Linked DNA regions of Homo sapiens: region 1 is linked to region 2. Evidence: fine-mapped expression QTL. A gene starts in region 2. The other region holds a variant in brackets. All regions are shown on one strand. Distances are from middle to middle. Region 1 overlaps PTK7 (protein tyrosine kinase 7 (inactive)). Region 2 holds the start of PEX6 (peroxisomal biogenesis factor 6).

The links. PIP is the estimated chance that this variant, and not a neighbour inherited with it, causes the effect.
Region 1: its variant is the best candidate, but not a certain one, in a credible set for the expression of PEX6 in whole blood (INTERVAL, PIP 0.80).

What each region holds. Positions count from the first base shown.
Region 1 is chr6:43,084,558-43,088,943 of GRCh38, reverse strand. The region is part of intron 1 of PTK7 (protein tyrosine kinase 7 (inactive)); the gene reads right to left. Among named protein-coding and RNA genes, the nearest start is that of PTK7, 10 kb to the right of the region's middle. The variant G/A (reference allele first, on the strand shown) is at 2,389.
Region 2 is chr6:42,977,494-42,981,879 of GRCh38, reverse strand. It overlaps PEX6 (peroxisomal biogenesis factor 6), which reads left to right and starts at 2,699. Exons shown (of 17, transcript NM_000287.4): 1 at 2,699-3,611. The coding sequence starts at 2,730. LOC124900215 (a long non-coding RNA gene) reads left to right here. Exons shown (of 2, transcript XR_007059580.1): 2 at 1,037-1,338. RefSeq lists silencers at 440-658, 1,897-2,093, 2,748-3,127 and enhancers at 2,288-2,337, 2,498-3,439.

The sequences.
Region 1 (4,386 bases), 110 kb before region 2:
CCACCACAGCACTGCTCAGCATACATCTCCCAGCAGGAAGCAATAGTCTGGAATGCACCTACAAGCCAGGGCCTGCAACTGCCTGTGACCTTCCAGCAGCACCAGGAGGAGGAGGCTAAGGACTCATGGGTTCATGAGAAAAGCTCAAGCCATCGGGATTTAGGCACAGTGTTCTAGCCTTTTAGATTACATATAGTTTCACCATAACTCTTTATTTATTTATTTATTTATTTATTTATTTATTTATTTATTTTGAGATGGCGTCTCACTCTCACCCAGGTTGGAATGCAGTAGCATGATCTCAACTCACTGCAACCTCTGCCTCCCAGGCTCAAGCCATTCTCCTGCCTCAGCCTCCCGAGTAGCTGGGATTACAGGCATGCACCACCACAGCTGGCTTATTTTGTGTTTTTAGTGGAGACTGGGTTTCACCATGTTGGTCAGGCTGGTCTTGAACTCCTGACCTCATGATCCACCCGCCTCGGCCTCCCAAAGTGCTGGGATTACAGGTATGAGCCACGGCAATTGGCCACGTGTGCAGCATATCATAGCACAGTAACACCTGGACATACAAGGACTCTAAGTGAAGGCACAGGAGGGACTGGCACTCTGGTCTCAGCTTTCTACCTTTGTTTTTTGAGACAAGGTCTCTCACTGTTGCCCAGGCTGGAGTGCAGTGGTGCAATCTTGGCTCACTGTAGCCTTGACCTCCCAGGTTCAAGTGATCCTCCCACCTCAGCCTCCCAAGTAGCTGGGATCACAGGCACGTGCCACCGCTGCTGTCTAATTTTTCTTTTATTTTCTATTCCGTAGAGATGGGGTCTCGCTATGTTCCCCAGGCTAGTCTCAAATTCCTGGGCTCAAGCAATCCTCACGCCTTGGCCTCCCAAAGTGCTAGGATTACAGGTGTGAACCACCACACTGGCTTCAGCCCTATTCCTCACCAGCTCTGTAGTGCTAGGCAGATCGTACTTTTGTGCCTCAGTTTCTTTCCCTGTCAAATACTCTCCCTCCTAAATCTTTACAGCACCCTTTGCACCCAGAAAATTATACCCTAATACCCACATCACCAGTTGGTCAAGTCTAAACACATCTGTGCCCACGCACTAGAGACTCCAGAATAAAAAGCAGCCCTTAGATTAAAGTGCTCTCCCTAAACCCAGGGTAAGGAGAGCCTGTAAGGTGTGGCAGAAACAAGGCTGGAGATGCCACACTGAGTGAGCCTCAGCAAGGGCCCTCCAAGGTCTTCTGTTCTGAAGTTGAAGCCTGGAGAAGAGGATGGGACCTGCCCATGGTCACACAGGCAGTTTTAGGCAAATGTGGAAGGAGAGTCCATGTCTTCCAACACTGACCCTAGTGCTCCTCCTGGTGCTTCCTCAGGCTCAAGAGGTATGAACATCACCAGGATACCCAGCGCTGGAGCTCAGCAAGACCCAAGACCTGCCTTTGGGACTGAGGTCCTGCCACTTCTCTTGCAGGAATTCCTCTAAATCAGGAATGCCCACACACTTTACCTGGAGACCCTAGTGTCCCCAGGGAGAGAGGAAACAAGAGAAAGGAAAACTGAAAGCTCCTAAATAAAATGTGAAATAAACTCTGCGGCCCACTCTTCCCAAGGATTCTGCCAGCCTTCCACACCAATTATCACATAAGGCTAGGAGCCTGTATCTGCAAGACAGCAAAATCCTCTCACAGGGAAGGGGCCCAGAAATAGGTCAAGACTTCAGCAGCCACAGATATACAATGTGGGGTGGGTACAGTAATGGGGCTCCACCCTCACCGGCTTCTCCTATTGTATGTTACAGGCAGGATTGCCCCATCCCACCACCATAGGAGGCAGAACAGTAGTGAAGAGGGCTCACTTGAAACATGACTTTAGAACAGAGGCATCAAAATCATCTTGGCCCATCAGCTGGGAAACAAAGAGCCACAGCTGCAAGGCCTTCATGCCAATGGAACAGCCACCTTTGACTGTACAGGTTGTGCACTGCTCAAGATGTCTGACCAAAGAGTCAACACTGAAATACTGCCTGAACCCTGGTGCAGGACTGCATCTACCTGGAGGAAGGGTTTTTTTGTTGTTGTTTTTTTGTTTTTTTGAGATAGGGTCTCGCTCAGGTGCCCAGGCTGGAGTGCAGTGGTGCAATCACATCACAGCTCACCCACTTCAGCTCTGACCTCCCAGGCTCAAGCAATCCTCCTGCCTCAGCCTTTGAGTAGCTGAGACTACAGGCGTGCACCACCACACCCAGCTAGTTTTTTTGTATTTTTTGTAAAGACAGGGTTTCATCTTGTTGCCTAGGCTGGTCTCAAACTCCTGAGCTCAAGTGATCCACTTGCCTCTGCCTCCCAAGTGCTGGGATTACAGGCGTAAGCCACTGCGCCCAC[G/A]ACTGGGAGTACTTATTTGTAATGTGCACAAAGGTACCATACGAGCTAGCTGCTGGGACACCTCAGCAGTCCCAAAGCAGACAAGCGTTCCCCTCATTGCCCCGCCACCACCCCAAGGAGGAGACAAAAAAAAAAAAAAGCCAGAGTGTCTCCTGGAGGGGAGGTTGTACATGATAGTGCCCATGCGGGCCCCCATAACCACCCCCAGGGAGAGCCCACTGCCCTTGGCCACACAGAATCTCAGGAACCTCCCCACAGCACAGACAGAAGTTCCCACAAATTAACAGAGTCGCTGACTGGGGAAACCCCCACAGTCATCCAGTGATTATAAAAACCCCTCCCTTGGGTATCATAAAAGTCTGCCTAGGCTGCCTGAAGCACAGTTCACTACCCACTCCCTGAGAACCTCAGCATGCCAGGAGAGACAGTGGCCCTGAACCAGCACCAACCCACCCCTTGGGAGAATCTGCTATTGAGACAAAGAGAGAGGGAGAATTCCCACCAGGAAAATGTGGCTGTGTGTGGCTCCCACATTTCTGGGCTGCTGTTGGAATACTGAGACCCATTTAGAAAACTTGTGCTTTTGAATGAGGAAGCCATGTTTTTTTTTTTTTTTTTTTTTGAGACAGAGTTTCGCTCTTGTTGCCCAGGCTGGAGTGCAGTGGCGCAATCTCAGCTCACCACAACCTCGGCCTCCCGGGTTCAAGCGATTCTCCTGCCTCAGCCTCCTGAGTAGCTGGGATTACGGGCATGCGCCACCACACCCGGCTAATTTTATATTTTTACTAGAGATGGGGTTTCTGCATTTTGGTCAGGCTGGTCTCGAACTCCCGACCTCAGGTGATCCACATGCCTCAGCCTCCCAAAGTGCTGGGATTACAGGCGTGAGCCACCGCACCCAGCCCAAATGAGAAAACCATTTCTAAGGCTGCTAGTCAAGAGGGACTTTGTTGAGCCTTTGGCAAACCATTCTAGGGTCCGAAGGCTGGAAATAAAGGCTGACACCTCTGGCCAGGCACAGTGGCTTATGCCTGTAATCCCAGCACTTTGGGAGGCTGAGGCAGGTGGATCACGAGGTCAGAAGTTCAAGACCAGCCTGACCAATATGGTGAAACTCCGTCTCTACTGAAAATACAAAAATTAGCCGGGCATGGTGGCGGGCACCTATAATCCCAGCTACTCGGGAGGCTGAGGGAGGAGAATGGCGCGAACCCGGGAGGTGGAGATCGCACTACTGCACTCCAGCCTGGGCGACAGAGAGAAACTCCATCTCAAAAAAGAAAGGCTGACCCCTCAAAAGGAAACGGCTGGCCAGGACAGTCTCTGGGAAGAACCATCAGGGCTAGCCAGAGGGGCTGCTTCCCAGGGGTCACCCATTTCCACAGTTGAAGAGCATTATATCACAACTTCACAGGGGCCAGCAAGGCAGGCAACAGCATCACTTGCATTGTGCTCACGAGGAAACTGAGGCTCAGAAAGGTTAACTAACCAGCTCAGGGTCATGTGGGTATGCAGCAATTGAGCCAGGACCAGAATACAGAAAAACTGGTGTCACAGGTCTATAGATGTCTCTTCTATTACTTCATCACTTGTGGCTGCCATGTGATATTAGAACAGTACCACCCAGGTTTTCAGAATCCTGGTCCGATGACTTTACATCATTCTGAGGCCGTCACTGACTACATCTATTCATCATTCTGAGGCCGTCACTGACTACATCTATTCAGCAATGTAGGGTCTTCTCTCCTCTCTGAAGCCCTCCCACCCCCTATTTGCTCCTACATCTCAGACTTACCATCCCACACATTCTAGAATGTTCTTCTATTCTACTTAGCACTTTACCAAATGGTGTCTTTCATACTTCATCTGATTCACGTTTCTCCATCTTGTCTTCTTCCTGCATTCCATGCCTCCTCAGACAGCTTCACCCATAGAAGACACTGAAGCACTTTGAATGAACTCCCTCCTAAGCCCCCCACTATTAATATCACCCTTTTT
Region 2 (4,386 bases):
TTTTTCAGAGAGTGGAAGACCGTTTTTAGTGAGTGGAAGAGTGAGCATCAAGAGGTGAGGAAGTGAAGATGGCAAATGTAGGGTCCTGGCGATCTTACAGAAGTAGTATTTGGCTTTCGGTGACTAATGACGATTTCAGGGTAACACAAAGTGGACTACATGCCCGCTGTTACCTGCTGGGAGAAAAGCTTGGGAGAAAAGGACATTTATTTGTGGGTGGGTATTTGTGTCTGTATGAGTGCTGATCCAGGCAAGATAACTGATGTTTTTACCCATCTCCAAGGCCTCAAGGAGCACTATAGTCCTGAGGCCTAGAGCTTGCCTGCTACTGAGGAAAGCAGGCATATCCTCTTTAGGCCCATGTACCATCTATCTAGCCCTTGGTTCCTCTGGGACATAGGGGACCAAGAAACATATAGTAGCACTACCAAATGGGAACTTTCATCCATGTGAATCTAGGTACCTAGAACATTCTTTATTTAGTTTTTTTTTCTTTTAATTTTATATATTTTAAGAGACAAGGTCTTGCTCTGTCACCCACTTGGAGTGCAGTGGCACAATCATAGCCTCAAATTCCTGGGTTCAAGTGATCCTTCTGCCTCAGCCTCCCCATAGCTGGGATTATAGACACAAGCCATGGTTCCTGGTTAGTACATTCTTGCATGCTATTTTATTTATTTTTTTCTATTATTTATTTTTTTGAGACGGAATCTCACTCTGTCACCCAGGCTGGAGTGCAGTGGCGCAGTCTCGGCTCACTGCAAGCTCTGTCTCCCGGCTTCACGCCATTCTCCTGCCTCAGCCTCCCGAGTAGCTGGGACTACAGGCACACACCACCATACCCAGCTAATTTTTGTATTTTTAGTAGAGACGGGGTTTCACCATGTTGGCCAGGCTGGTCTCAAACTCCTGGCCTCAAGCAGTCCACCCACTTGGCCTCCCAAAGTGCTGGGATTACAGCCATGAGCCACTGCGCCCAGCCCCTTATAATATGCAAATCTAATAGTTTTCATATATTTGTCTTTCAAATTTTCAGGAATGTATAATGTACAAAATAGAAGACTGCCTCAAGAAGAAAGGAGAGATGGAGAAAGCTGAGCAGTAGCTGAAAGAGAATGTAAGGTCTAGAAAATGGAGATTGGCACCATCCAATTCATTTATTGTAAGTGAAAATAATTGTTAATAATTGGAAATGCAGTGGGACATGATGGCTTATGCCTGTAGTCCCAGCACTTTGGGAGGCTGAGGCCTGAGGATCTCTTCAGACCAGGAGTTTGAGACCAGCCTAGGCAACACAGAGAAACTCTGTCTCTACAAAAAATAAAAAATTAGTCCAGGCGCAGTGGCTCATGCCTGTAATCCCAGCACTTTGGGAGGCGTAAGCAGGTGGCTCACTTGAAGCCAGGAGTTCGAGACCAGCCTGACCAACAGGGTGAAACCCCGTCTCTACTGAAAATACAACATTAGCTGGGTGTGGTGGCACACACCTGTAATCTCAGCTACTTGGGAGGCTGGGGCAGGAGATTCTTTGAACCTGGGAAGCGGAGATTGCAGTGAGCTGAGATCGTGCCATTGCACTCTGGCCTGGGCAACAAGACCGAAACTCCGTCTCAAAAAAAAAATTGGCTGGGTATGGTGGCGTGTGCCTGTGGTCCCGGCTACAGTTACTCGGGAGGCTGAGGTGGGAGATCACTTGAGCCTGGGACGGTAGAAGCTGCAATGAATGGGGATCGTGCCACTGTACTCCAACCTGGGTGACAGAGTAGGACCCTGTTGCCATAAAAAAGGAAATGTGGCCTACCACTAGCTGAGTGTCTTGTACAGAACAGTGGAGGTGAAGAGAAGGATGGAATCTAAATAACAGCACACGCAGGAAGTCGACTGTTGGTGTTATGCTGACAGAAGCCTTGAACTCCTTTCCTTCTGCCTGCTCTGCTGCCTGCCCCGCTCTAGGATAGAAAGTGAATGGGTTTCCGATCTGCAAGGATTTGGGGGGGGGGGGTGAAAGAAAAGCTGTTTTGTCTTCAACTTAAGTTTGGTGGGAGTAAAACAAACAGAACAATGAACAGGGCAAGAAGTCCTGGAACATGGGTTTTGTGCCAGATGTGCTGGAACATGTGTGGTGGCACCAAGCACTCCAGGGCTGTATGAATCACATCTAGTAATTCACTCAGCAGCCACTATATACCTATAAGCAAGTGTGAGACAGTTTTCTAATCCTGCTACTCCCTCCTGCAACCTTTCCTGCAACCCTCAAACCTCAGTGCTCACAGTTCCACAGGGGAAGCTGCAGGAGCTCCGCAGAGGAGCGGACTCCTTCCGAAACATTTCACCTAGAGCTCCCAGTACTGGGCCCAGTCATCCCGAGCATGCTGACTGTTCATTTATCAGTCAATAAACTGTTACGTTCATGCCACGGGGAAAAATAGTTAAGAGAACATTACTTCCGTAGAAGGCAAAGATAAATCCCTTAAGCACAAGTTCAAATGGCGCATGGGTAAACGCTACGCAACCGCAGCGATGAAGGTTACTGCCTATCGAGGCACGACGCAGATCAATCCGAGGCGCAGCTAACCCCCTCAGAGCAAGTTCGCGGCACCCGACCCCCCTCCCCTTTTCCTCTGGCCTCCCCTGACGGAAGCGGAAGCGGCCCTCGCGCACACTAGTCGTCTGGCTCTCTGGCTCCGGAAGCTGCGCTCCTTCACCCTCCTCGTTGGTGTCCTGTCACCATGGCGCTGGCTGTCTTGCGGGTCCTGGAGCCCTTTCCGACCGAGACACCCCCGTTGGCAGTGCTGCTGCCACCCGGGGGCCCGTGGCCGGCGGCGGAGCTGGGCCTGGTGCTGGCCCTGAGGCCTGCAGGGGAGAGCCCGGCAGGGCCGGCGCTGCTGGTGGCAGCCCTGGAGGGGCCGGACGCGGGCACCGAAGAGCAGGGTCCCGGGCCGCCGCAGCTACTGGTTAGCCGCGCGCTGCTGCGGCTCCTGGCACTGGGCTCCGGGGCCTGGGTGCGGGCGCGGGCGGTGCGGCGGCCCCCGGCGCTAGGTTGGGCACTGCTTGGCACCTCGCTGGGGCCTGGGCTCGGACCGCGAGTCGGGCCGCTGCTGGTGAGGCGCGGAGAGACCCTCCCAGTGCCCGGACCGCGGGTGCTGGAGACGCGGCCGGCGTTGCAAGGGCTGCTGGGCCCAGGGACTCGGCTGGCTGTGACTGAGCTCCGCGGGCGGGCCAGACTGTGTCCAGAGTCTGGGGACAGCAGTCGGCCCCCACCCCCGCCCGTGGTGTCCTCCTTTGCGGTTTCTGGCACAGTGCGGCGACTCCAGGGAGTTCTGGGAGGGACTGGAGATTCACTAGGGGTGAGCCGGAGCTGTCTCCGTGGCCTTGGCCTCTTCCAGGGCGAATGGGTGTGGGTGGCCCAGGCCAGAGAGTCATCGAACACTTCACAGCCGCACTTGGCTAGGGTGCAGGTCCTAGAACCTCGCTGGGACCTCTCTGATAGACTGGGACCCGGCTCTGGACCGCTGGGAGAGCCCCTCGCTGACGGACTGGCGCTTGTCCCTGCCACTTTGGCTTTTAATCTTGGCTGTGACCCCCTGGAAATGGGAGAGCTCAGAATTCAGGTAGGATAAAGGACTGGGGTCAGGAGTGCTTCCTCTTTCTTATACCCTCTTCTCTGTCTTAGGTAAATTGGAAGATTTAGGACTCGTGCCCCATATCATCCCGGACTTTGAACATAATGTTTCTAGCCGGGCGCGGTGACTCACGCCTGTAATCCCAGCACTTTGGGAGGCCGAGGCGAGCGGATCACTTGGGGTCGGGAGTTCGAGACCAGCCTGACCAACATGGAGAAACCCCGTCTCTACTAAAAAAATGTAAAATTAGCCGGGCGTGGTGGTGCATGCCTCTAATCCCAGCTACTTGGGAGGCTGAAGCAGGAGAATCGCTTGAACCTGGGAGGCGGAGGTTGCGGTGAGCCAAGATCGCGCCATTGGACTCCAGCCTGGGCGATAAGAGTGAAACTCTGTCTCAAAAAAAAAAAAAAAAAAGCATAATGTTTCTTAGCCTCATTTATCTATTTTCTTTTTCTTTCTTTCCTTTTTTTTTTTTTTTTTTTTTTTTTGAGATGGGGTCTTGCTCTGTCACCCAGGCTGGAATGTGGTGATGCGATCTCGGCTTACTGCAACCTCCGCCTCCCAGGTTCAAGCGATTCTCCTGTCTCAGCCTCCTACTACTGGCTCGCGCCACGACGCCCGGCTAATTTTTGTAATTTTTAGTAGAGACGGGGTTTCACCGTATTGGTCAGGCTGGTCTCGAACTCCTGACCTCAGGTGATCCACCCAAAGTGTTGGGATTACAGGCGTGAGCCACCTCACCCGGCCTATTGATCCATATTCT